4 linked regions of the Homo sapiens genome follow. The protein of the gene in region 2 interacts with the protein of the main gene of each other region in a biochemical or structural test. Each region holds a gene or a part of one and is shown on either strand. Other genes may lie near its edges.

Region 1 (7,626 bases), on a different chromosome or scaffold from region 2:
CTTTAACAAAGAAAAAGATTAAACAAAAAATTTAACATTTTGCAAATTTATATTATCCTTTAGTAGAAGGAAAAATATTGTAAATGGTAAATTATAATATTCAAAGTCCAAACCGAGAAAACAATCTCCAGTCAGATCATTGAATAGCAAAGCGGTCTGTTCCAAAAAGAATCTTCAAAACGCCCACTGTTTATGTTTTGCACAACTTTAAAGTTTTAATGCTAATAATGACTCAATTTAAATGGAGATATCTTTAGGCTGTTATTGCCCTAAAATAATCAATATATTTTATGACTCACACAGCCCATCTTGGCTTCCAGACTGGCCTGTGGATATTATGTTAATAAGCTACATCTGGACAGCTGAGCAACAACATCAGTAATAGAAAGGAGGGTAAATTTAAGCCTCGAGTTTTAAGAACAAAGCTGAAACAACAGGCCTTGAAAATACAGCTACGGCCGGGCTCCATGGCTCACGCCTGTAATCCCAGCACTTTGGGAGGCCGAGGCGGGCAGATCACGAGGTCAGGAGATCAAGACCATCCTGGCTAACACGGTGAAACCCCGTCTCTACTAAATATACAAAAAAATTAGCCGGGCGTGGTGGCGGCACCTGTAGTCCCAGCTACTCGGGAGGCTGAGGCAGGAGAATGGCGTGAACCCGGGAGGCGGAGCTTGCAGTGAGCCAAGATCGTGCCACTGCACTCCAGCCTGGGCAACACAGCAAGACTCCATCTCAAAAGAAAAGAAAACACAGCTACGAAATAATGCCCAAAGCACTCTTTATTTATACATTGTGCAGGCTGCACACTTTTGTCCCTGGCTCACAGACGGGCAGTAGTGAAAACTGCTTTTCAGATACAAGGCTATAGGTATTAAGGATTACCTAAGTCCTTTCAAAACTTTCTTTTTTTTCTTTCTTTTTTTTGAGACTGAGTTTTGCTCTGTTGCCCGGGCTAGAGTGCAATGATGCCATCTCAGCTCACTGCAACCTCTGCCTCCCAGGTTCAAGCAGTTCTCCTGCCTCAGCCTCCCAGGTAGCTGGGATTACAGGCACGGGTCACCACACCTGGCTAATTTTTGTATTTTTAGTAGAGACGAGGTTTCACCATGTCGGCCAGGCTGGTCTCGAACTCCTGACCTCAGGTGATCCATCCACCTCGGCTTCCCAAAGTGCTAGGATTACAGGTGTGAGCCACCACGCCGGGCGTCAAAACTTTTGACTGCAAGTGCACAACATGTTTTTAAGGACTACCTAAATCCTTTCAAAAGTGGTCCTCAAAAACATGTTGTGCACTTGCATTCATAATAACGGTATTTCTTTCTTCCTGCTAAGCCAAATGCTGGTACAAGCCACTGTGGTATCACACATGGCTTCATCATACTATAGTCACCCTTCAAAGGACATTAAGTAGGCTTCCGCTCCTGATCTGTGCAGACACAACACACACACACGTATCCACGAAAAAAAATCAAAGCAAAGAGAGAAGGCTGGGTGCAGTGGCTCACACCTTTAATCCCAGCACTTTGGGAGGCCGAGGTGGGTGGATCAATTGAGGTCAGGAGTTCAAGACCAGCCTGGCCAACATGGTGAAACCCCATCTCTACTCAAAATTCAAAAACTAGCCGGGTGTGGGGGTGGGCGCCTGTAATCCCAGCAACTCGGGAGGCTGAGGCAGGAGACTCACTTGAGCCTGGGAGGCGGAGGTTGCAGTGGGCGGAGGTTGCAGTGAGCCGAGATAGCACCACCGCACTCCAGCCTGGGCGACAGAGCCAGACTACGTCTCTCTCTCTCTCTCTCAAACACACACACACACACACACACACACACACAGTAAACAGAGAGCACAAATTCACAGCTCCAACTCCACCAGTTATTCAAACACACATTAAGGATGTGCCAATTTTATATAGGGACTTTGTTTTTAAATTCTTCTTAGAAACGACCACGGCTTTGCACCAACTGTGAGTTTTAGCTAAGTACTATGCGGTTTTGAGAAAGTTATTTTACTCTGTAATTTCCGCCGGTTTGGAGAGACCGTGCGTAAAGCAGGTAGCCTGCCACCTCCTGTTACGTTGTGGCTGGGTTTTGAAGGAGTACATTCAGGGGCTTGGCGGCTAACGTCCAAGCCCCACCCTAGCAGGTTGTTAAACTCTAACAACTGTGGAAAGTCACTCGGAAGCTCCAGTTTGACTTGCCCTTTGAGGGGCTGGGTGTCTGTGTTGGGAAAGGGTAGCAGGGGTGGGGGTGGAAAGACACTTTGCACAGATCCTTGTTTGCTTAAGACGAGCCTCTGTGGGCATTCTGGGAACACGTGCACAGCTCCAGCAAAACAAAACGGACCCGGGTTTCTGGGGCAGAGGGAAGCGCAGCCCGTTCTACCGTGTTCAGCGGGGTAACTGCGCTTTGCGGGAGCCCCTGCCTTGTAGCTGGAGCTCGTTTCCTTTCCGTGCCTGGGCGAGCGCTGGTTCTCCAGCCAAGAGCACCCTCCCCAGTTGGCGAGCCCTGGCTCTGGGCGGGACCCGTGCCTGGATCCCCTTCTCTGGAGTTCCGCACCTGGGCTTCGGGAGCTGAAAGCGCAAGGGGGCTACAGGACCCGCTTGTTTATTTTTTCTCCTCCCGAAATCCTGTGTCACCTTCCGACCCGCGTTTTCCCCGTGGTCCTGCATCCGACGGGTCCAGGTTTCTCCCTGCAGCAATTTCCTAAGAGGCTGTCTTCCGTCCCCCTCCTTCCCCACACCATGCCCTCAGCTTCCCCACATCGCCCTCCTTAGGGGTGGGCGCAAACCGAGCTCCCCTGGAACTTACACGTGGCCACAGCGGGTCCGGACAGGCTGGTGTAACACCTCAAGGCACACGGCGCAGTCGAAGGACGTGACGGGCAACTCCGGGTCCCTCCTGCGCTCCAGGGCCCGCGCGGTGGCAGAGGCGGGCGCCGATTTGCCGCTGTCGGTGCTCAGCACGGAGCCCATCGCTGTGCCTCTCGCCCAGACAGCTGCGAAGCACTCAGTGCCTGCCGCAGGGTTGTTTTGTTGCCGTGCGGTGGAGGAAGGAAGTCCCGGCCCAGCTGCGATCGCCGCCTCCCAGCTCTCCCAGCTCGCGCAGCCCAGAAGCCACCTCCGCCGCTGCGCCCAACCCTGGTCTAGGGCAGGGCGAGCGCGCGGCCGCGGGGCTGAGATCTTCGGCAAGCCGCCTAGGTTAAGGCGCGGAGGCGGAGGCGGCAGCCGCCCCGTGCTCTGTCTTGTGGTATTGGGAGGATTGAAACCTGAAACCTCAACTGCAGAGAAGAGGACTTGAGGCAGCAGTAAACCTTCCAAGCTATCACACACAGCTGCTTTCCCCACTGTCAGAAGTTAAGTGCGGGCGTGGCCATGCTTAATGATAATCAGAGAACAGCCGCTTTTAAGGTGAAGTGGAAGACCATCCTCCACTGTTGTCATCACAATAAGCTGCAAAAATGACCTATGACCTATGATTGGGCGTCTCCTAAGACGGTGCTATCGCTACTCTGTCATCCAATCAATAGTCCATTAATGGAGAGATAGCCTGGGTAGTGGAAAGAGTCCTGGAGATTAGGATTCCAATCTTACCTCTCCTACAGAGATTCTAGTGCTAAACCCTGCCATCTCCAGTTTCCTCTGCGGCTCAGGATTTCCTCTGTTGTTTGTACGCTCCCCACCCCGCCCTTTAAACATGATCAGCCAGGCGCGGTGGCCCACGCCTGTAATTCCAACACTTTGGGAGGCCGAGGCGGGCTTGAAACTCCTGCTTGAGGGCAGGAGTTCGAGACCAGCCTGGCCAACATGGTGAAACCCCGTCGCTGCTAATAATACAAAAATTAGCCGGGCGTTAATTTACACTTTTTACGAAGACTTATTTAGTGCCCACTGCACGCCAGACTCGGTTCTAGTGATGAAGACACAATCGTCAACAAGCAAACAAAATCCCAGTTCTCACAGAACTTACTTTAAAAAACAAAAACAAAACTTTGAGATAATTATAGATTCACATACAGTTGTAAGAATAGTACATAGTATATAATACACATATACAATAATATATAATATAACACATGGGATATAATAACGCATATAATACATGTACGTATTTAGCAGGCCATAAACTTCACCCAGGCTTTACTTTTAATTAGGAGATATAGGCCGGGTACCGTGGCTCACGCCTGTAATTTCAGCACTTTGGGAGGCTGAGGTGGGAGGATCACTTGAGCACGGGAGCCAAGATCACACTACTGCACTCCGTCCTGTGCGACAGAGTGAGACCATGTCTCAAAAAACAAACCAAGCCGGGGCAGTGGCTCACGCCTGTAATCCCAGCACTTTGGGAGGCAAGAAGGACAGATCACCTGAGGTCAGGAGTTTGAGACCAGCCTGGCCAACATGGTGAAACCCTGTCTCTACTAAAAATACAAAACTTAGCTGGGTGTGAGCTACTTGGGAGGCTGAGGCACAAGAATCGCTTGAACCGGAAAGGTGGAGGCTGCAGTGAGCCGAGATCATGCCACTGCACTCCAGCCTGGGCAACAGAGGGAGACCCTGTCTCAAAAAACCAAAACAGGCTGGGTGCAGTGGCTCACGCCTGAAATCCCAGCAATTTGGGAGGCCGAGGCAGGTGGATCACAAGGTCAGGAGTTCAAGACCAGCCTGGCCAACATAGTGAAACCCCGTCTCTACTAGAAATACATTTCTTTAGTAAAAATTTTTGTACTAAAAATACAAAAATTAGCCAGGTGTGGTGGCACATGCGTGTAGTCCCAGCTACTTGGGAGGCTGAGGCAGGAGAACCACTTGCACCCAAGAGGTGGAGGTTGCAGTGAGCCGAGACCATGCCACTACACTCCATCGTGGGTAACAGAGCGAGACTCTGTCTCAAAAACAAACAACAAACAAAAGGAAGATACATGTAATCAATCCATAAACAAATGAACAAAATCATTTCAGATAATCAGAGCCATGAAGAAGATAAAACAGTAAATGGCAATGAGGAGAAGAATAAGCTCAGAGAAGAATTTTTGGATGAAGTGACATTTGAGCAGAGCCATGAATAATGAAAAGAAGTGAGCCATTCAAAGATTTAGGAAAAAGCGTGGACTGGGAACAGTGAATGAGGCAGAACCAAAGAAAGGAAAGACCTATGGAGCTGGAGCATGGGTGGTGGGGGGCAGGCGGTGGGGGGGGGGAAATAAGATGAAAAGGTAGTTATTCCCATCTTCAAAAGGAAAACAAAAACCTCCCTTTCATCCCACTTATGCCTCAACTCCTGCCCCATATCCGCTTCAAGGCCAAATCTCTTGATCTGATCCTCTACATTTTGTCATCATTTCTTAATTATTCACTTCTTATTCAGTCCAGTCTGGGTTCTGAACCAACCTCTCCACCTCCATCTGTCCAAAAACTGCTTTATTATCAGTGTCACTGGTGACGTTCATGTAACTAATTCCAATAGATTCTTTTCAGCTATTTTTTTTGCTTGACCCCTCAACTATGTTTGTTAGTGCTGACCATCCCCTCCTTCTGGAAACACTCTGACTTTCCCTCTTTCTTTCTGGCTATTGTTTCTTCTCCCTTGCCAGAGTCTCCTTCTCCACTGGCTCTGGGCTGGAGATCCTAGGATTCTGTCTTAGGACCTTTTCCCTTCTCCTCTCTCTCTCTTTCTCTCTTTCTCTTTCTCTCAAAAATCACACAGGTTCTGTCACTATTTCGGTTCCAAAAACTTTCACATCTTTATCTCTACCCCAGGCCATTCAAATGTCCAATAGCCTAATAGCTTACATGACTGACCATTTGACATAAACACCCTCAGCCCAATGTCTCCAATAATGAACTCATTATAGTAGCAGCCTCCTCCAGTGGTTGATCTCTCTTTTAGCAAATGGCACTATGATCCACTTTATAGCTCAGTCTAGACACCTGGAAGTCATCCTTGATTTCTTCCTCTTCCTCATTCACATTGAATCAAGCATAATCACAATCCTGCCTCCAATATGTATCTCAGTAGTTCTTTTTTTTCTGAGATGAAGTCTCTCTCTGTCGCCCAGGCTGGAAGTGTGCAGTGGCGCAATCTCAGCTCACTGCAACCTCTGCCTCCTGGGTTCAAGTGATTCTCCTGCCTCAGCCTCCTGAGTAGCTGGGATTGCAGGCGCATGCCACCACACCCGGCTAATTTTATTATATTTTTGGTAGAGACGGAGTTTCACCATGTTGGCCAGGCTAGTCGTGAACTCCTGACCTCATGATCCGCCTGCCTTGGCCTCCCAAAGTGCTGGGATTACAGGCGTGAGCCACCATGCTCATTTTCTTCTATTTCCATAGCCACCGCTTATTTTAAATCACTGCATTCTCTTGTGTGACTTAATGGCAGTAGTTCCTAACTGCTCTACCCGCATCCATCATTGCCTCTCTCCAGTTTATTATCCACATGGCAACTAAAGTGATCTTTTGAAAAGCAAACATCTTGTGTCACCCCATGCACAAAATCCTTTAATAGCTCTCCTAATCCTTAGGATTAAATTCCAAATCCTTAATATTATCTAAAAATTCCTGCAAGACTTACTTTTGATGGCAGGAATCAGAAATTCAACTAAAAGTGCCTCGTTCAGTAAGGATATTTATTATCGACCAGCTCAGTGGCTTACACCTGTAATCCCAGCACTTTGGGAGGCAGAGGCAGGCTGATCATGAGGTCAGGAGTTCGAGACCAGCCTGGCCAACGTGATGAAACTCCATCTCTAATAAAAATACAAAAATTAGCCGGGCATGGTGGCACACACTTGTAAGCCCAGCTACTCAGGAGGCTGAGGCAGGAGACTCGCTTGAACCCAGGAGGTAGAGGTTGCAGTGAGCCAAGATCATGTCACTGCACTCTAGCCTGGGGCAACAGAGCAAGACTCTGTCTCAAAAAAAAAAAAGATATTTATTATCGAATATGGCAAACTAGTCCAGGTGTAAACAGTTCCAGAGATGTCTCAGCAGCTCAATTATGTCCTCACAGCCTCAGCCCCTTGCCATCCTCAGCATGTCTCCCTTATGGCTGAAACAGTCAATTCTATACACAACCTCCAAAAACAAAAAGGAAAGGGTAAGATTTCCCCCTTGTAGCTCTCTCTTCTTTTACATGGGAGAAAAACGCTTCCTAGAGGCCTTCCTCTGCAGGCTTCCCTTCCTATCTAATTGGTCAAAATTGGGCACCATTGCCATCCTAAATCAGTCACTAGCAAAAGAGAATGGGAGCACTCTGATTGGCTTAAACTTATTATTTATTCCATAGGACTTGGCACCTCAGCTCTCTGAAACAACATAAATAGGGTTCTTATACCAAGAAAGGAGATGAGACAATTGGATGGACCAACAGTAAGGTTTCCCAAAGTAACTATTTGGGGGTCTTAGCTGCTTTCACTCTCCTCCCTATTTTTCAGGCTTCTAAATTTCTCTACTTATTTCAGTCCTTGAGTGTGTTAAGTTCTCTCTGACTCAAGGCCTTTATCCATGCTTTTATTTTTCTCTTGGACTTAACACTTCCTACCCAACATTCTGCCATTCATAACTAAACTTTCTCAAATTTTTGTGTTTTTGTTTTTGTCTTTGTTTTCCCTGAGATGGAGTCTCGCTC
Region 2 (7,025 bases):
GTTGAATGGGACAACTTTTGGAGTTTGCTTCATAAGAACTTTCTGGAAAGGTTCCTAAGTGAGCTCTTGAGGACAGGATGAGAAGTTGATGTTATCTTGGCTTCCACGGTGCCACTCCCAGTAGGTGCTGTGACCAGAATACGACTCTTAAAAAGAGGAACGTACCCGCAAATGTGAAGTGTATAAAAACAGGGCTTTACAAATCCTGCTCTCTTCATCTTTGTCTGGCATCTGGAACACCATGCATGCTTTCTGAACTGTAACAATCCATTGTTCATATTTCTGTGTTCCAAATTCCCTATTTTGAATTTGAGATAAGTTTTCTGTTAAAAAAAAAAAAAAAAGTTTTTCACTGTCTCATATGGTCAGTCATTTAGGGTTATAAACAGGCCTCACCCTCTAATTTTCTTTTTCTTTTTTTTTTTCCTCGAGGCAGAGTCTCGCTCTGATGCCCAGGCTGTAGTACAATGGCACGATCTTGGCTCACCGCAACCTCCACCTCCCGGATTCAAGCGATTCTCCTGCCTCAGCCTGCTAAGTAGCTGAGACTACAGGCGTGTGCCATCACGCCTGGCTAATTTTTGTATTTTTAGTAGAGACAGGGTTTCACCATGTTGTCAAGCTGGTTTCAAACTCCTGACCTCAGGTGATCCGCCTGCCTCGGTCTCCCAAAGTGCTGGGATTACAGGCGTGAGCCACTGCACCTGGCCTAATTTTCTTTCTTACTCTCTGCAAACAGGATATTCCTCCTGAAATAGTCTTAAGTCATCTAGTTAAAACTATTTAACTGGATTCAGACTGGTGAAAAGGTGGAAGCAGGGTACCTGAGGTGGGAGGAGTAAGAAAATAGAAACTCATGTGACTCCATCACCATCTCTCCATCCTTCTGCTCCTTCCCCCATTGAGATAACACCACTGTGCTGCTGGATAATATGACAACCTCCAAACTGTTCTCCCTACCTCTTGCCTTGTTCCCTCCCTTGAGTTTTAAGCAGTGCATCTGTGTGTTTGTTTGTGTGTGTGTGTGTGTGTGTGTGTGTGTTTGATTGTTTCTTGAGTACTGTGTACCAAGAATCAAAGTACCTTACATTCATAATTTCATTTAATTTTCACAACCCATGAGATACATATTACATTTCATATATTGGGAAACTGAAGTTCAGAAAAGCCAAGTAATAAGTAATTTACCCATAGTCACACAGCAAGTACGTGGAGAAAGGGCAGGAATTCAAACCCACATGTGTCAGATGCCCAAGCTCTACTGGCTCTATGAGCTGACAACCAAAGCAGCCCAGAAATAAAACAGTAGACATGAAAAACCCAACTTTGCCTTTAAAAATGAAGAAGTAAAAATAACAGGTCTCAAGAGCTTCATCAGAGGAGGATATATAAAAGCAGGAGATTGGCCGGCCGCAGTGGCTCATGCCTGTAATCCCAGCACTTTGGGAGCCCCAGGCGGGTGGATCACGAGGTCAAGAGATTGAGATCACCCTGGCCAACAGGGTGAAACCCCGTTTCTACTAAAAATACAAAAATTAGCTGGGGGTGGTGGCACGCACCTGAAGTCCCAGCTACTTAGGAGACTGAGGCAGGAGAATCGCTTGAACCCAGGAGACGGAGGTTGCAGTGAACCGAGATCACGTCACTGTACTCCAGCCTGGCGACAGAGTGAGACTCTTAAAAAAAAAAAAAATCAAGGAGGAGATTTAGGACTCAGTTCACCCTATGTTCTGCTTTGCTGTGAACTTGGGCCTCCTGTTCTCCAGAGCAGCATTCTCAGGGCCAAGCATAGAATCGGCCCTCAAAAGACACTTATCACACATGCATCTGTCTGTGTGCATCTCCTAGGATAAGCCTCAGTTGCTTGGTTCAAAGCTGGGGCATCTGCTGTGGTCCAGGCTCTGTGTAGGGTGCTGGGGATAAGATGAGGAGACTATGGCTGTGTTCTCAAGCAGCTGAGTCTGTGAGTTACTCTGGTATCAGTTCGCCAGGGCTCCTCATGAAGAGCACAGTACAACAAAAGTCACAAGCAAGAGCTGTATTTCTGGGTTAAATTCTTCCCCTCACTCATTCATTTTCAATAATAGGAACAAAGGAGGCTACCCAAACAAGTAGTATTGACATGCTTCTTTCCAAGTTGCAGCTACAGCGAGGTGGCCAGCAGTAAAGAAGATGAGCCAACAGGTACTGATTGAACCTGGGTAGGTGTAAAAATAGCCTAAGCAGTTTAGAGATGAGCAGCTAACTGGATTCGGACTGGCAAAAAGGTGGAGGCAGGGTACGGGAGGTGGGAGGAGTAAGAAAATAGAAACTCACGTGACTCCATCACCGTCTCTCCATCCTTCTGCTACTTCCCCAATTCAAACCACATCAGTGTGCTGCTGGATAATATGACAATCTCCAAACTGGTCTCCCTTCCTCTTGCCTTGTTCCCTCTAACCCATACTCTACCCAGTGGTTAGAGGGAGTTTGCAAAATTGCAGATGAGAAATCATCCCACCCCACTGCTTAAAAGCCTTTAGTGGTCCTGCAGCCAAAATCCTGCCCCAGCTCACACACTCCTCCCCATGCTCTGGCCTCTGCTTGCTTTTGCTTCTCATTTCTGGCCACTCTCCTTTCAGCATTCTACAGGACTAATGGAAGTCCCTATACTCTTTCTAGTCTCCTGGCCTTTGCATATGCTATTCCCTGTGCCTGAAACACACCTTATCACCCCCACCACACCAGCTGCTTTAGTATTAGTATTACTTCTCTAATTTTGGTCTTACCATCAGACTAGAAATGCCCTGAGGCCAGGGGCTGTATCTTAGGGTTCATGCTGTATTCCCATCACCTAGCCCATTCCTTAGCACTAAATGAATGAACATATGCATGAACACATTCGGGAAACTGCTAAATCAAAAGGATTCAGGTAGGGAAGTAGTAGAATATAACATTGGAAAGATAAGTAGAACCTGGGTGTTCAGGCAGGGCTCAGACTGCAGGTTAGAGGCGTGAAGATTATCCTGTAGGCAAAGGGTTTTTAAGCAGGACAGGGACATGATAAAATGTATTCATGAAGACTAACTAGTTCATGAGAGGTTGAATGGAAGAGAGAGCAGAGGTAGGCAAAATCAGCTAGAAGGCTGTTAGAACAATTATAATAGAAATTAAACTGTGAAAGAAAAGGGGAGAGAAAAGCAAAATAAGTGTGAGAGGAGACACTCCATGAGGTGTCTTACAGACGTCACATTTAACATCCCTAAAACTCAAAACTCAAAACCTTGTACCTGCCAAGGCTGCTTCTAGTCCTGGTACCAGGACCACCCACTGGCATTCATAGAGGTGCCTAAGCCAGATGCCTGGGGGGAAATCAGCCCCTCCTGCCCCTTTCTCATCCCCACCCAAATCCGTTTAGCCATTCAATCATAACACTCACAGTTGGAAGCATCTCACATGTGTCTCCTTCCTTCTCCAATCCATCTCTACTGCCTCTCTTTGGTCCTTCTCATTCACTGGTATCTTTATTACGTCACTAATCAGTTTTAATCTTCACTTTTTTCCCCATTGTTTTTAGGATAAAATTCAAATCCAGGCCCTTCACTGTCTTCCCCTGGCCCATCTCTAGTCGCACTCCTTTAATGCTGGGAAATGTGCTGGGTGATTGTCCCTAGATATAAATCTGAGCCAGTAGAGGAATGGTGGTTTCATTCAGGTGAACAGGAAAGTCAGGAGGGAAAGCTGATTTAGAAGGTAGAGAAAGCAATGAACTGACTTAAGTATGGTTATTTTTCAGGTGCATGTGTCTGGATGAACTTACTTTGGATTTAAAAGGAAAAAAAGGAAGAAAGAAAGAATAGAGGAGGACATATAAGGCTCCTAAATAACCTATAATCAAGGAAGACAACCTCTGGATATGGTCTTGACATTGTCTGAACTAAGGAGAACACAAAAAGACGATAGTGAACAATAAATGGCTATTCCCCAGTAGAGAGAACACAAAATATGAGATTTATCTCACCGAGGTCTTTGCAGATTCTCTTTGCCAGACTCTCTGTGTCCCTCATCAGCTGAGCTATGATGTATTTAAATTTGTCGCTAATCCGTGATTCCACTTTCCTGAAAACTAGAGACGTCAAAAAAAAAAGAAAAAGAAAAAAAGAGTGAGTATATTTTCAGGAAGGACAGATTGTAGTTCAAAGTAGGTATCTCTAAAACCTTTCTCTGCCTTTGATACTTCCTCTGAAAAACCTAAGGTTCCAGGCTAACTGGCAGGTGGTCCAGATGATACAACAAATGCTCAAAATGCAATGGCTCCCTGTTGCTTCTTGTACTGATTCTAACACCTGTCTTTCATGGTGTAGGTCTAACTAGCTTCTTTTTTTTTTTTTTTTTTTTTTTGATTGAGACCAAGTCTCACTGTGTCACCCAGGCTGGAGTACAGTGGCGCGATCTCGGCTCACTGCAACCTCCGTCTCCCAGGTTCAAGTGATTCTTCTGCCTCAGCCTCCCAAGTAGCTGGGACAACAGGCGCACACCACCATGCCCAGCTAATTTTTGTATTTTTAGTAGAGACGGGGCTTCACCATATTGGCCAGGCTGGTCTCGAACTCCTGAGCTGGTGACCCACCCGCCTTGGCCTCCCAAAGTGCTGGGATTACAAGCGTGATCCACCGCACCCGGCCTAACCAGCTTCTTACTGTGGCTGTCCTGTTACCTCCTCTCTGATGAGGCGGGCATCTCTCATGTCTCTGCAAGTGCCACAATCTAACCCTGTCTCTGTGCTTTGATATTCTCCCTCCCCACACAGCTCCCAGCAGTATTCACACTGATCCTACCATTTATCAATATATTATTTCAGCCTAATTATTAATTGCCTGCAATGTGCCATGCTTTGATTATAGACAGTTGAAAGAACACACTTCATGCTCCATACAGGGCTGTGATCTTAAGGGAGAGAAATATACATGGCTAACTAACCGTAGCAGTTCTCTAACAGAAGTACATGTAAAGTGTAGCCGGGTGTGGTGGCTCACACCTGTAATCCTAACACTTTGGGAGGCCGAGGAGGGTGGATCACTTGAGGTCAGGAATTCAAGACCAGCCTGGCCAACATGGTGAAACCCTGTCTGTACTAAAAATACAAAAAATTAGCCAGGCGTGATGGCACACGCTTGTAATTCCAGCTACTCAGGAGACTGAGGCAGGAGAATCACTTGAACCCAGGAGGTGGAGGTTTGCAGTGAGCCGAGATCGCACCACTGCACTCCAGCCTGGGCAACAGCACGAGACTCTGTCTCAAAAAAAAAAAAAAAAAAAAGAAGTAGTACACGCAAAGTGTCACAAAACACAGGGAAAGTAACACCTAATTCTTCCAGGGAAGTCAGAGTTGTAGAATAAATACAGGAAGAAGAAAGAAGAAAGCAAGAGTAGTCATGTATATTCCATCACAACTTGGCAAAGAAAAAGAAAAAAAAAAAAGAGCAGTGATGTACAAAGGAAGCACAGACAAAAGGTGGGAGAGAGAAAGCACACGGCATGATTGAGGAGCCCAGAGGAATGCAACATGGTTGGGTTTATGAATGTTTGGAGGTGATGAAGCTCAGAGGGCAGGAGGAACCGGATTGTAAAGAAATTCATATGTGACACTGAAAAGTTGGGATCAGGTACATCAAAATCCTTACTTACAAGCAGCCTTCAAAAAGGAACTTATCTACACCACTCCCTATTACATGTCTATTTGTTCTACCTCAGAAATACAGTCACATACTACTCAGAGAGCAAGGGTGAAGTCATATATATTTTCTGTATCCCTCTCTTCCTTTCAGGGTTAGTGTAATAATAACATCAATAAACAACTGTTAGTCATATTAAAAAATCATATCTGATCTTTGGAGGAGTGACATCATGAATTCAGATCATTCCATTTCAACTAAAATGATCAAATACATATTCAAACAGTGATGACCACACAGGCACAGAGCATGGGAAAAGGCTGAGTGAGCCCAGCTCTTGGCTATCTGATGCCTAAATTCTCTCATCACCTCTTTTGCATTGCTAGTACATTTATAAGAGGTTTTTGGAAGCAAAGAGGAAGAATGTTTGCTCTCTACAGGCCACTTCTGAGGTTCATCCATTGCTTGGGATGAGAGCTCAGTTAGAGAGGCTAAAAAATGTGACTGTTACTCAAGTTCAAGGTTAAATATTTTCTACTAAACAGAGAGAGGGTCAAAGTTCAGTATTCGTCTAGATGGCTCTGAACTAGAGGTAGTAGAGAGTAACAGAATCTCAAAGGCTTGTTATTGGATCCAACTTACACTTCTGGGGCTTATAAACAACTTGCTCCAGTTCCTCCAGATTGTGTTTGACTGTTGCTATCACTGACGCATCAAGAGAAGCACACAGCTTGCAGATATAATCCAAGGCTTCATCTGTGTTTTTGGCATCCCCAACACCAACCGAGGCAGTCAGCCCAATGACCTGTAAGGAGCATTCAAAATCATTAGATGTCTGAGAAATGGTACAATGTTTCCACAACCCCTCATATAACTCTTTCCTGCTGGGGTAGGGCGTTTTTTTGTTTTTACTAACACACAGTGTATGGCACATGGAGGCACATAATGCATATTTACTAAGTGAACAAATGAATAAAGGAAACAAAATTCATAATGAGTTGTACAATATGGACTTGGGACCTGAGAAGGACATCTTCAGTGTGGCCATAAGAGTAAGAAAATAGGAGTTAGGAAGATTATAGCTCTTCTGAAGCATTCGTCTGACTTTGGAGATACCTGGGGCAGTGGGCCTGAAGATCCTCCAAGTTTCTGATCTAGATAATTAAACATGATCATATTGTACGGGTGTTGTTTACTAGTGTTGTGGCATTCATCAAATATCATCAAAGTAAAGATGGATAGTGATGGAATCGTTCCCTTTTTAAGGTTGTTCACAAGAATCTGTGGAGTTAAAATGATGATGTCATTGTTCTCAACAATCTGTTCCACTGGGACATTCTCAGCTGTTGCTCCAGAAATGCCTGTAACTCT
Region 3 (7,025 bases), on a different chromosome or scaffold from region 2:
CTGAATTTCTTCTAGGTCATGGAGAATATCTCTGATTTTCCCTGCAGCTGTGTCGGAAGTCACCAGCTTTGGAGAAGCCATGGAAAGATCCACCCCAGAAGAAAAAGCCTATTGATAAACCATTTAAAACTGAATAAATGGAAGTCCCCTATGCAGTCTATCAACTATTATATTCAAGTTTTTCTATTCATCTATAATTTTCTATTTAATTCCCAGCAAGTTTTTAAAAACAAAATTAGGCCCTCAAAAAATATGCCTTGAAAAAAATCTGGAATAATTTGCTGTACATAGTACAGCAAAAATATCAAAGAGTGGTTATTTCTGGGTGATGGAGTTATGGAGCACTTTAATTTGCTTTATTTAATGCTATGTGCTTTCTAATATTTTGCACAATAAACATGGATTTCTTAGGTAATACCAAAAAAGTTTAACATTTCTAGGCGCATCTTATAGGGGCTTTATAAAATAAATACTACAGATAGTTACTGAGATAAACCATGGAGGTCAGAATAACCTTTTCGGCTAGGTGTGGTGGCTCACACCTGTAATCCCAGCACTTTGGAAGGCTGAGGAGGGTAGAACACCTGAAGTCAGGAATCCGAGACCAGCCTGGCCAACATGGTGAAACCCTGTCTGTACTAAAAATACAAAAATTAGCCAGGCATGATGGCAAGTGCCTGTAATCCCAACTACATGGGAGGCTGAGGCAGGACAATCACTTGAACCCGGGAGGTAGAGGTTGTACTGAGCTGAGAAGATCATGCCACTGCACTACAACCTGGGCGACAGAGCAAGACTCCATTTCACAAAAAAAAAAAAAGGAACCTTTTCCCACCTCTATCATTATATCATTTCACTTCGCAAGAGCTCCCTCTCAAATTGCCTGCATCCAGGTCCTGCTTTCTAGGGCCTTCAACACATGCTCCCTGATTTTCTTTAGCCTCAGGTCCTGTTCTTCCCCAATACAGCCCTTTATCTGCTCACCAACTTCAACCCCTTTCCTTCCCACCTTTGCATAATCCACTCCCCATTCTTTCCACCAATCAAAATACGGTAGTATTACACTTATTGAGTGTTTTCTACATGCTAGATATTGCCTTTCTCTCATTTGCATAACAACCTCACAAAGTAGGTTTATCAACCTGTAAAAAATCTCCGTTTTACAAAAGAAGATGAAATTCATGAAGGTTAACTAAATTGCCACAGTTAATTATAACATCCCACATTTTAACATTGCTCAAGCACTTTCTTATACCTCTTTTAATCCTCACAATAAACCAATGATGTGGCAGGCCCTGTATCATTATTTCTATATTACAGATAGGAACCTGAGACGCAGATAGATGAAATGACTTGCCCAAGGTCATAATACTAGTGAGTGACAATGTCAATTCTGAAAGTCAGACTCTCAGCGTTTCTATCCCAACACATCGCATCCCTAAAGATGGATTTATCCATACATTCAGTGGGTATTTGTTGAACCCCTACTGTAAGTGGGTACTTGGGTACTGTGCTAGCGCCTGGGGACACAATGGTGGACAAAAGAACAAAAGCATCAGCCAGGCAATGTGGCGCACGCCTGTAATCCCAGCACTTTGGGAGGCCGAGGCAGGTGGATCACAAGGTCAGGAGTTTGAGGCCAGACTGGCCAGTATGGTGAAACCCCGTCTCTACTAAAAATACAAAAATTAGCCAGGAGTGGTGGCGGACACCTGTAGTCCCAGCTACTCGGCAGGCTGAGGCAGGAGAATCACTTGAACCTAGGAGGCGGAGGTTGCAATGAGCTGAGATCACGCCACTGCACTCCAGCAAGACTCTGTCTCAAAAAAAAAAAAAGCATCAAAAGTCCCTATCCTCCTGAAGTTGAGAGTCCAGTGAAGGAAAAGGGAGGGGGGCAGACATTAATATAGAGTATGGCACAAGACATTACAAAGGTGCAATGGTGATAACCACTACAAATGAAAGGTACATGGAGTCCTCAGAGCCTCTAATGGGGAGATTTGATTTGTTCAAGGAAATCATTGAAGGCTTCTTTCTGAAGAAATGACGTTCTAGCTAGGATCTGAAGGATGAGCAAGTATTACCTAAGTGATGGAGGGAAAGGAGAGCATTCCATGAAGGGTGCCCTGTAGTGGGAAGACGTGAGACACACTAGAGCGACTGTGCGGCCAGTGTAGCTAGAGCGCACAGAGCCAGGCAGCATGAGCAGAGATGAGATTTGAGAGGCAGACAGAGATGGGATCCTACAGGGCTTTGCTGGTCCTGTGAGGATTTGGGTCTTACTCCTGAGCAAACTGATGTAATTTGAATGTTTTAAGCAGATGAGTTACATTTTCAGATTGATGTTTGTGGTAGTCACTGTGATGACCATGAGGAAAACAGACTAGAAGAGGGAGAGTGGAGCATTTGGAAGACTATGACAGCAATCCAGACATGAAATTATCAGAGGCTTGGATTAGAGCAAGTCTCAAAGGAGCTCAAGAATAAGTAAATAGATTTGAGAGGTAATTAGGCAGGTCTTAAAGCTACAATATGCTGCATATTAGGGTAAGGGAGAAGAAGGTAACATGATTTCCAGGTCTCTGGCTTCTGTACTTGGAAAGATAATGGGGCAAGCATTGAGATGAGAAATCCCAGAAGAGGAGCAGTTTAGGACGCATTAAGTGTGATGCTTTGAGATACCCAAGAAGAAAAGATGAGAAGGAAGACATAGCAGCCTAGTGCTCAGAGAAGGCTCCAGCCTGGAGCTATTATTTGTGCATAGAGGTGGTCATTAAAGCCATGGATGCAGGGAAGACTACCTGCAGGGGAAACAAAGGGACCTACAACTCAGCCTTGAGGAACTCCAGCATTTAATTCCTAAGCAGAGGAGAGAGAGCCTGTAAACAGACTGAGAAGGATCAGCCAGAGAGAGGTGGGGGAAAGCCAAAAGATTCCTGTCCCAAAAGCTAAGAATGAAGGTGTGGTCCACAGTGTCAAAGGCTGCTGAAAGGTCAATGAAGACAGGCACCAGAACGCTTATAGAGACAGGCACCAGAACGTTATACACAGAGGTCACTGGTGATCTTAGAGACAGCTTGTTAGGTGGAGTGATCCTAGCCCATCTGAAGCTTCCCAACCTTACCTCAAGCATTCCAAATGTCCAATCATCCATGTCTGGTAGTAAAGAGAACAATAAAAGATTGAGACTTATTGTATCCTTCAGGTTCAAATATGTTCATGTTGTTCCAGTTGAAAGCAATCCCTAGCCCTATTCCCTTCCACATCCTTTCCTCTCCCAGTGGAGCCTACCTTGCCCAGGATGCTCAGTTCGTTGTCTGGTCCAGATTCTGATAGGGGCCTCTGATTCTGCAGGCTTCTGACAATGTCTACAAGATGTTCCACCAGCTCTGTCAGCTCCTGAGCAACTTCTGTGATGCTCTTCTCTACTGCCACCTTCAAAATAGCAAAGTTCAGGTCCTGGGTTCTATAAAACTGGACCCAGGAACCACCACTAGACAGAGGGAATCATAAATACTGTGGTAATGGCATAAAAACAGACATACAGACCGATGGAATACAATAGAGTACCCAGAAATAAACTCTCACATATATAGTTAAATGATTTTTGACGAAGGTGCCAAGACCATTCAATGGAGAAAGGACAGTTTTTTCAACAAATTGTACTGTGAAAACTGGATATCTATATGCAAAAGAATATGGCTGGACCCTTACCTAACATCATATACAAAAACTAACTCAAAATGGATCAAAGACCTAAATGTAAGACCTAAAATAATACAGCTGTTAGAAGAAAACATAGGGCAAAATTTATGACATTGGATTTGGCAATGATTTATTGTATATGTCACTAAAAGCACAGGCAACAAAAGAAAAAAGGAGACAAATTGGACTACATGAAATGTTTAAACATTTGTGCATCAAAAGACACGAACAATAGAGTAAAAAGGCAATCCACAAAAATGGAAGAAAATATTTGCAAGTCATACATCTGATAAGGCATTAATACTGAGAATATACAGAGAATTTCTAAAACTCAACAATAAAAACATATCACTGCCGCTTGTTTGGTTGGTAAAACAAACAAGCAAAAACCCACAAACAACTGAATTTTGAAATGGGCAAAGAACTTGAATAGCTATTTCTCCAAAGAAGATATACAAATCACCAATAAGCACATGAATAGACACTCAAGATCACTAATCACTAGGGAAATGCAAATCAAAACATACAGTGAGATACCACCTCACACTCATTAGGTTGGCTACTATCAAAAAAAAAAAAACCAAAATAACAAATGTTGATGGTGTGGGAAGATTGGAACCCTCTGCACTGTTGGTGGGAATGATATAGCCACTATGGAAGACAGAATGGTGGCTGCTCAAAATATTAAAAATAGGCCAGGCGCAATAGCTCATGGCTGTAATCCCAGCACTTTGGGAGGCCGAGGCGGGTGGATCACCTGAGGTCAAGAGTTCGAGATCATCCTGGCCAACCTGGTGAAACCCCATCTCTACTAAAAATACAAAAATTCACCAGGTGTGGTTGCAGGCACCTATAATCCCAGCTACTTGGGAGGCTGAAGCAAGAAAATCTCTTGAACCCAGGAGATGGAGGTTGCAGTGAGCCAAGATCATGCCACTGCATTCAAGCCTGGGCGACAGGGCCAGACTCCATCTCAAAAAAAAAAAAAAAAAATATATATATATATATATATATATATATATATATGTACATATATGTAATTAGAATTACCATATGATTTAGCAATTCCACTTCCGGATATATAAGAATTGAAAACAGGATCTCAAAGAGATTCATAAACTCATGCCCATAGCAGTATTATTCCCACTAGCTAAAACATGGAAGCAACCCAAGTATCTGCAGACAAATGAATGAATAAGCAAAAAGTGGCATATACATACAATAGAATACTACTCAGCCTTAAAAAGGAAGGGAACTCTGACACATGCTACAACATAAATAACCCTTGAAGACATTATGCTAAGTGAAATAAGCCAGTCACAAAAAGACAGATACTGTATGATTCAACTTATATGAGGTATTTAGAGTAGTCAAAATCAGAGACAGAAATTAGAATGATGGTTGCCAGAGGCTGGGGGAAGAGGAAATGGAGAATTTTAATGTCCTCCTAGAATTCCACTTTTGCGAGTTGAAAAGAGTTATGGTACCCTGAAGAACCAGTCATGTTAATTTAAAATTTTTTAAAGTTATGGAAATGATGGTAGTGATGGTTTCAAAACATTGTGAATGTATTTCATATCACCAAACTGTATACTTAAAAATGGTTTAGGGCCAGAGAGAAGTGGGGGAAAGCCAGAAGACTTAAGGGTGGAGAGGGCAGAGCAAGATAGCCAAATAGAAGGCTCCATTGATCATCCCTCCCACAAGAACACCAAATTTAACAACTACACAAAAAAGCACCTTCATAAGAACCAAAAATCAGGGGTACTTACAGTACCTGGTTTTAACTTTATATTACTGAAACAGGCACTGAAGAGGGTAGGAGAAACAGTCTTGAATTGCCAATGCAACCCATATCCCATGTGTCAGGGGCCACATGCACAGAGAATCTGTGCACTCAGGAAAGGGAGAGCATGGTGATAAAGAGAATAGAAAGACTTTGCCTTGTCGCTTCACAAAGCAAAACTGGGCTGAATTCAGCTGACGCCTACCCACAGAGGGAGCATTTAGATCAGTCCTAGCCAGAGAGGAATCAAATCACCCACCCCAGTTATTGGAACCTGAGTTCTGGCAAGCCTCTCCACTGTGGGCTGAAGTGCTCTGGGGCTCTAAATAAACTTGAAAGGCAGTCTAGGCCACAAGGACTGCAACTCCTAGGCAAGTCCTAGTGCTGAGATGGGTCTCTGGACCGGCCCCGAGCCTGGGTGAATGTGCCACCATGAAGGGAAGGACACAAGCCTGGCTGGCTTTGCCATCTGCTGATTATAGAGCCCTAGGTCCTTGAGTCAATATAGGTGGTAGCCAGATAGTGGTTAACAAGGGGCTTGGGTAAGGCACAGTGCTGTGTTGGCTTTAGGTCTGACCCTGTGCAGTTCTAGTGGTCATGGCCACAAGGTGCTTCTGTCACCCCACCTCCAGCTCCAGGCAGCTCAGCACACAGACAGACTGTTTTGGAGAACGTATGAGAAGAGAACAAGAATCTCTGCCTGGTAATCCAGATAATTCTTCTGGATCTTATACAAGACCACCAAGGTGGTACCTCTAGTAGTCTGCAAGAGTCACAGCTTTACTGGGCTTGGGGTGCCCCCTAATGCAGATACGGCTTAGATCACAACGCCCAAGTCCTTTCAAATTCCTGGAAAGCCTTCCCAAGAAGGACAGGTACAAACAAGCCCAGACTGTGAAGACTACAATAAATAACTAACTCTTCAATGCCCAGGCACTGACAAACATCCACGAGCATCAAGACCATTCAGGAAAACATGACCCCACCAAACTAACTAAATAAGTCACCAAGAGCCAATTCAGGAGAAACAGAAATATGTGACCTTTCAGACAGAGAATTCAAAATAGCTGATTTAAGAAAACTCGGAGACATTCAAGATAACAGAGAAGGAATTCAGAATTCTATCAGGTAAATTTAACAAAATGATTGAAATAATTAAAAATCGGTTAAGAGTCATCACCACGCTCTCCCTCTCCCTCTCCCTCTCCCTCCACGGTCTCCCTCTGATGCTGAGCCAAAGCTGGACGGTACTGCTGCCATCTCGGCTCACTGCAACCTCCCTGCCTGATTCTCCTGCCTCAGCCTGTCGAGTGCCTGCGATTGCAGGCGCGCGCCGCCACGCCTGACTGGTTTTCGTTTTTTTTTGGTGGAGACGGGGTTTCGCTGTGTTGGCCGGGCTGGTCTCCAGCTCCTAACCGCGAGTGATCCGCCAGCCTCGGCCTCCCGAGGTGCCGGGATTGCAGATGGAGTCTCGTTCACTCAGTGCTCAATGGTGCCCAGGCTGGAGTGCAGTGGCGTGATCTCGGCTCGCTAC
Region 4 (7,025 bases), on a different chromosome or scaffold from region 2:
GAAACTCTGAGAGAATAAATATGTGTTTTTTGAAGCCCCTACATTTGTGGTAAGTTGTTGCCCAGCTCAGAAAACTAATACAGCGTGTGTCTCAGGGATGCTTCCAGTGACCTCTTCCAGTCTCCCGCTCCTTGAGGGCCCTATCATCAACAGCATGACATCAGGCAAAAAAAAAAAAAAAACATTCAACAATGCCTTGTGGCGACCTACCTCCAGAAACTCGAACTCATCCCTCTTGGTCAGGCTCTGTTCAATCTCCTCCTTCAAGGTCTGGATCTCACTCTTCTTCTTGAGGAGAATCTGATAAATGGTGTCAAACTTGCTGTTGACCCTCTTCTCCTCTTCCTTTATCTTCCTTGTCGAGGTGGTCTCTGAGGCGTCCAAGAGAGCCTTCATTTCCGTGTATTCTTGTTGTAGCTGCTCCACCTTTCTGTTTGCAGTCATCTGAGAGGGCCAAGGTAAGAGGATGCCCGTCAAAGGGGCAAAAGTGCTAAGGCTGCAGCCCCAAGCATGGGTGAGATGTGGAGTTCCAGGAACTCTTACCTGTACTTTGTGGGAGAACAAACCACTGTGGGGAGCAACTTGGCAATATCTAATAAATTTGGAGGTGCTCATAGGCTATGACTCGGCAACTCCAGTCCTAGGAATATGTGCTACAAAAAATTGCAGCCACCTGCCCCTGAGACATGCATAAGAATGTTCACAGGCAGCATTGTCTGAAGTAGCAAAAACCTGGAATCAACCTGAACATCCATCAGAAGAAGACTTGAAGCAAAGACTGGGAGCTATTCATAGGATGGAATATTAAACAGTTATGAAAATTAATAAACTGGAGCTATGCCTGGATAAATCTCCATGAGAGAAAAACAACTTGCAGAAGAAGATCCACCATATGATGCTCTTTCAATAAAGCTTAGAAACAAACAGAATGGCTATATGCACAAAGAAACGCATGGGAATGAATAAATAAATTCAGGAGAGTGGTTACTTCTGGAAGAGAGGAAGAGGGATAGAATAAGGGAGAAACAGATGGGAGGGGCTGCATCGATGATATTTTATTTCTTAAGCTAAAGGTGGTTCATGGGCAATTTTTAAAAATAAAAGTCAGCAAGAGATCAAGACCATTCTGGCCAACATGGTGAAACCCCATCTCTACTAAAAATACAAAAATTAGCTGGTTGTGGCAGCGCGCACCTGTAGTCCCAGCTACTCAGGAGGCTGAGGGAGGAGAATCGCTTGAACCCAGGAGGCAGAGGTTACAGTGAGCCGAGATCGTGCCACTGCACTCCAGCCTGGGAGACACAGCGAGACGCTATCTCAAAAAAATAAAATAAAATAAAACAAAACAAAAAGTCAGGATGCAGCTCTGGAAAATTTCTAGAGAATATCATGCTCTAGGATTGTACTTTCCAATAACATAGCCACTTGCTACATGTGGCTACTGAGCACTTGAAATGTGGTTAGTCCAAACTGAGACTTGCCATGAGTGTAAAATACATACTGGCTTTCAAGGGTTTCACACCAAAAAAAGGAATGTAAAATATCTTAAAACTTTTAAATTGATGATATGTTGAAAGAATAATATTTAAGATATACCAAATTAAATAAACTATAATATTAAAATTAATCTCAGTCAAGTGCAGTGATTCATGCTCATAATCCCAGCACCTTGGGAGACCGAGGCAGGAGGATCGCTTGAGGCCAGGAGTTCAAGACCAGCCTGGGCAACATAGACAGACTGTTTCTCTACAAAAATAAAAATAAAAAAATTAGATGGACTGTATTCCTGGAGAGTGGGGGTGGTGAAGGGGAGTAGGCTCAGTCAGGAAGATTACTTGAGCCCAGGAGTTCAAAGCTGCAGTGAGCTATGATTGTTCCACTGCACTCCAGCCTGGGTGATAGAGTGAGACCTGTCCTAAAAAAGATAGATAAATAAAATACAATAAATCTCATGTACTATTCAAATTAACTTAAAATGACATCTGCACTCCTACTGTATTTCTGCTGGACAGCACTGCTTTAGTAGCTGCAATTTTGTTTCACATCTTGGGTAGCCTCAATAGCTGCTATGGTTTGAATGTCTCCTCCAAAGCTCATGCTGAGATTTAATTGCCACTGAGGTGATTAGATCACGAGGGCTCTGCCCTCATGAATGGATTCATATTCTTATCACAGGGTTTGACCTCCTTCTTCCTGTCCCGCTCTCCTGCCTTCCATCCTTCCGCTATGGATGATCCTCACCAGATGCTGGAAGCATGCTCTTGGACCTCTCAGGCTCCAGAACTTTGAGCCAAATAAACTTCTCTTCTTTGCAAATACCCAGTCTGTGGTATTCCGTTATAGCAGCAGAAAACAGACTAAGACAATAGCTCAGAATCAAACATAACAAAGAGAAAAACACACAAGAAGGACAGTAGACTGGAAAAGAGGAATTCAAGTATTTCTTCGCCAATATTTTTTTTTTTTGAGATGAAGTTTCACTCTTGTCACCCAGGCTGAAGTGCAATGACATGACCTCGGCTCACTGCAACCTCTGCCTCCCGGGTTCAAGTAATTATCCTACCTCAGCCTCCTGAGTAGCTGGAACTATAGGCATGCACCACCACGCCCGGCTAATTTTTTGTATTTTTAGTAGAGATGGGGTTTCGCCATGTTGGCCAGGCTGGTCTTGAACTGCTGACCTCAGGTGATCCATGCGTCTCGGCCTCCCAAAGTGCTGGGATTACAGGCGTGAGCCATTGCGCCCAGCCTTCTTTGCCAATCTTTCACTGTGCAACTTCTAATGTGACTACAAGTGTCCCCCAGTGTTCATTTTCCCTTTTTTCCTTTTGGTAAGAGAACATCCCTGGAGTTTCATCTGGGCGTGTGGCTACTCAGACTACATTTCCCAGCCTCCCCTGCAGCTAGACTAGGCGATGTGACAAAACTCCTTCCAGTGACCCATGCCCAGGAGTGATATGTGCAACACTGTGTCACTTGTGTAAAGGAAAATTGCTTGTTGTCCTCCACCTCCTTTTTGTCCCTTTGTCACAGGCTAGAACAAAGATGTAATGGTAACCCAGCTTCAACCAAAGAGGCTGGGACAATACCTTGTGGAATAGTAGGGTAATAAGAAGGGAGAACCCTTAATCCCTGAATGATCACATGAACCCTTAGTCTGGGTTACTCATGTGTGGGTTTGGACTGTCAGTTGGTAAAATAAACTTCAATCATATTTAAGCCTCTGAATTCTGGTGTATCTTTGTTACAGCAGTATAGCCTGCCCTCTAACAAATACAGGTACTTTCACGTGCATTCTTTCATTTGTCTCACAGTCATCTTCAGAAAGAACTTGTGATTCCATTGTGCAAATTGGGAAACGAAGGTTCAAAGATCTGTCAACATGACCAAAGCAACATAAACTAGTATGTGACAGAGCTGGTATTCTAACCTAGATCTCATCTAATGAAACCATAACTGCTGCAATAAAACTGGTGCTGCAGCTCTGAAAAAGGGTAAAAATCTGATCTTTCCATTTAAAAGCAATTTAAACGTATCGAAAATCTGAAAAACAGGGGGAACAAAACCATTCCTAATTTACCACTCCAACACTTCCACTATGATCCTTCTATAATATTCCCTTTCAGTTTCTTTCCATGCTCTCTGTAATGGGTTGAATGCTGGGCCCCCAAAAGACATGTCCATATACCAGAACCTGTGACTGTAATCTTACTTAGGAAAGAGGTCTTTGCAGATGCAATTAAAGATCTTGAGATTCGATCATCATAGATTACCTAGGTGCTCCCTAAATCCAATGACAAGGGTTCTTATTGGAGATGGAAGACACTAAGGGAAGAAGAGACAGGTATGTGAAGACAGAGGCAGAGATCAGAGTGATGCAGTCAAAAGCCAAGGAATGCCTGAGCCACCAGAAACTGTAAGAAGCAAAGAAGGGTTCTCCCCTAGAGACTTCGGGAGTGTGGCCACGCCAACATCTTGATTTTGGACTTCTGGCCTCCAGAACTCTGCCAGAATACATTTCTGTTGTTGTAAGCCACCAAGTTTCTGGCAATTTGTCACAGTAGCCCTATGAAACTAATATACTTCCTTTTTGTAAATAGATGCAACCCTATGAGCTATATACTTTTGCTTCCTCTTTTTCTCCCACTTTATATCATAACCATTTTTCTGAATTACTACTTTTTAATCCTAATTTATAATGATTTCCCCCACAGTTGGGCTTATAGGTAATTTTTGGTTTGGGTTTGCAAAGGATCTCTCTCAGACACACAGCTGTCTGCATGCTTTGCAAGGTTGATGTTTCATCCTGACACTGTGAGTGCACCCAACACCAGCCTTGTCATGGTCAGAGCCACGCCCATCCCGCGTGGAAGCTGAGCGAAGCCACAGGGCAGGGCTGGCCTTGGAGAGCCCTGCCACTCACCCGCACATCCTGCTGCCTGTTTCTCACATCATCCAGTGCTCTCGACGCCCCGTTGATCTGACTGTACATGACAGTTAGTTTGTGCCTCAGGGTGGCCTGCAGGGAAAACAAATGAGGTTGAGAATGCACCTCTTCAGCCCAGCCCCACCAGAAGCCATCCCTGGAACTATCCCACAGGATAGATTCCTTCCTCTTCCACTCCACCCAAGTCTTGCCACCCCAAGTCCTGTCACCCGAGTCTTGCCTGCTTGGAGCTTTTTGAAGCATTCTAATACTTACTACTTCCCTTCATCCTTTTCAGAGGACAGTACAGACCAGGGTTCCAGTCCCAACTCCCAGCTGTGCAACTGTGTCCTTCACCTCAGTTTTCTTGGACACAAAATAGATACAACTGTCCCCAGCTCACAGGGCTATTGGGAGGATTAATTGAAACAATGTAAGTACTCAGCCCAATGCCTGGATCTTAGGAAAAACATACTAAATGCCAGCTTATATTATTATGAGTTTTTCTCTAATTACCCATTTTACAGCCAATGAAACTCAAGCAAGGAGGACAGAAAGGTGGCCAAGCTCACACAGGAACAGAACGAGCTGGGACAGCTGCTTCGGTAATGGCAGGTGGGGCCACTCAGACCAATCCTCCCACTGCAAACAGCCAGGAAAGCAGTCCAAATAATGGGGCAGCGGGGAGATCTGCTAAAAGATGCTGGAGAGCCAATCAAGCAGAGGATTAAGAAGTCAAGGTCCAGGAGAAGGGGGAAGGGGGCCCAGAGAGATAAGCCTGATATCTAGGATGTTCTCTCCAGAGGCATCTGCCAATCCCAGAACAAGGCTGGGAGCCTTTGTCAGCCTCACAGGGCAGGGAGACAGAAATCAGAGTCCAAGGCTCACTGCAGACTGGGACCACCAAGGGCTGGGAATAAGATGAATCAGCCAGCCAGGCGCAGTGGCTCATGCCTGTAATCCTAGCACTTTAGGAGGCCCAGGCAGGTGGATCATTTGCTCTCAGGAGTTCGAGACCAGCTTGGGCAACATGGCAAAACCCTGTCTCTACTAAAAATACAAAAATTAGCCAGGTGTGGTGGTGCACACCTGTAGTCCCAGCTACTTAGGGGGCTGAGGCAGGAGGATCGCTTGATTCCGGGAGGTTGAGCCTGCAGTGAGCTGAGATGGCATCACTGCACTCCAGCCTGGGTGACAAAGTGAGACCCTGTCTCAAAAAAAAAAAAAAAAAGATGAAGTAGCTCACAGGGGCTGAAGCCCAGGTGCAAATCTGCTCAGTCCTAGCCACCTCCAGAAACAAAGGCAAACTGTATATGAAGGAAGCTAATATCCTCATCTGATTTCAATTAATTTTCATAATCAATATCTGAGTCTCCTACCTCCCTGCTCAGATGAATACTGCACAGAAATGGGAAGGAAAATCACCACCACCATAACAGCAGCAGCCAGTATTTATTATGCACTTACTGTATGCCAGGCACTGTTCTAGTGCTTTACCTGTATTAACTTACTTAAAGCTAAGAACAACACTATGAGGTAGGAATTACCCAGCCTTTACAGACAAGGACACTGAGGCACAGAACAATTAAGTGACTTGCCCCAGCTACACTACTAGTAACTGGCACAGCTAAGATCCCGATATTAAAATCATAGACACATGCCCAAACTGAGCATGCTGGAGATTTCTAGAAAAAAAAAATTTCCTTCCCGTAACTAGCAGGCTCAACATACTCTGGCTCTCTCTTCCACTTCCCAGACTCTTCAACTCCACCCAAGATATTCTGGGCGGAACCTGATCTTGAATCTAGATTTGAACAACCCAGTGACAGTCACATGTAGGGGTTGGAGGCAGGGACCAAGGCCACACTAACTCAATCCGAAAAGCCCAAGCTGCTCATGATGTTTCAAACTTGACCTCTGTGACACTGCCCTTCGACCTGGCCTCTAACAGTGGCCAAGATAAGGTGTGGGCCAAAGACCAGGCCTACATACATCCGGCCTTGCTGGCCTCAGAGCAAGAAGAGACCTCAGAACACCCCAAGGCTGCCAACTGCTTCACTTTCAAGAGCTGCTCATAGCACTACACCCTGAGCCCTATATTTTGAAAGATTTGATACACCATTAATCAAACACATGCGGCAGTACCCTCATCATGAATGGTGCCCACACGACTCCAGACCAAAGGAAAGTGACCCAAAAACTTTGGTAGCAGCAATAATCCCCTAATCAAAGGCAAAGGACTTTTTGAAATCCTGAGGATCCCTTCACAGACTAGAGACTTGGGTCTTCCACATGGGAGGCACCAGAGTCTCAAGTCCGACCCCACCAGTGGCCAAGGCAACCCAGCCCCCGAGGCTAAGGGCATTGCCCAGCTGAGACTGGCTCTGCCAACAGTGATGAGCAGCAGTAGCAGGGCTCAAAAAGCAGACCTGTTATAGGACTCAGCAAGTCAGGACAGGGGGGTAGGTGTTGGCAGAGGAAGGCCTGTTGTTAGGATTAAACAGCAGAGTTTAGGCCAGGCTCCTGGCTCACGCCTGTAATCCCAGCACTTCAGGAGGCTGAAGTGGGAGGATCCCTTGAGGTTGGGAGTTCAAGACCA

What was found.
Region 1: of the proteins of RIGI (region 2) and RNF125, one has a biochemical effect on the other in vitro, tested with the Homo sapiens proteins (3 studies listed by BioGRID and IntAct, with this or other methods).
Region 3: of the proteins of RIGI (region 2) and RNF135, one has a biochemical effect on the other in vitro, tested with the Homo sapiens proteins (6 studies listed by BioGRID, with this or other methods).
Region 4: of the proteins of RIGI (region 2) and TRIM25, one has a biochemical effect on the other in vitro, tested with the Homo sapiens proteins (5 studies listed by BioGRID, with this or other methods).

Annotation. Positions count from the first base shown.
Region 1 is NC_000018.10:32,014,210-32,021,835, reverse strand, and holds the start of RNF125 (E3 ubiquitin-protein ligase RNF125), read right to left. Parts: upstream 3,012-7,626; 5' UTR 2,973-3,011; coding exon 2,809-2,972; intron 1-2,808. UniProt on the Homo sapiens protein: E3 ubiquitin-protein ligase that mediates ubiquitination and subsequent proteasomal degradation of target proteins, such as RIGI, MAVS/IPS1, IFIH1/MDA5, JAK1 and p53/TP53.
Region 2 is NC_000009.12:32,481,175-32,488,199, forward strand, and holds part of RIGI (antiviral innate immune response receptor RIG-I), read right to left. Parts: coding exon 6,771-7,025; intron 6,460-6,770; coding exon 6,297-6,459; intron 4,106-6,296; coding exon 4,001-4,105; intron 3,970-4,000; exon of another isoform or gene 324-3,969; coding exon 166-323; exon of another isoform or gene 1-165.
Region 3 is NC_000017.11:30,981,027-30,988,051, reverse strand, and holds part of RNF135 (E3 ubiquitin-protein ligase RNF135), read right to left. Parts: intron 3,436-7,025; coding exon 3,292-3,435; intron 109-3,291; coding exon 1-108.
Region 4 is NC_000017.11:56,904,045-56,911,069, forward strand, and holds part of TRIM25 (E3 ubiquitin/ISG15 ligase TRIM25), read right to left. Parts: intron 4,520-7,025; coding exon 4,424-4,519; intron 445-4,423; coding exon 211-444; intron 1-210.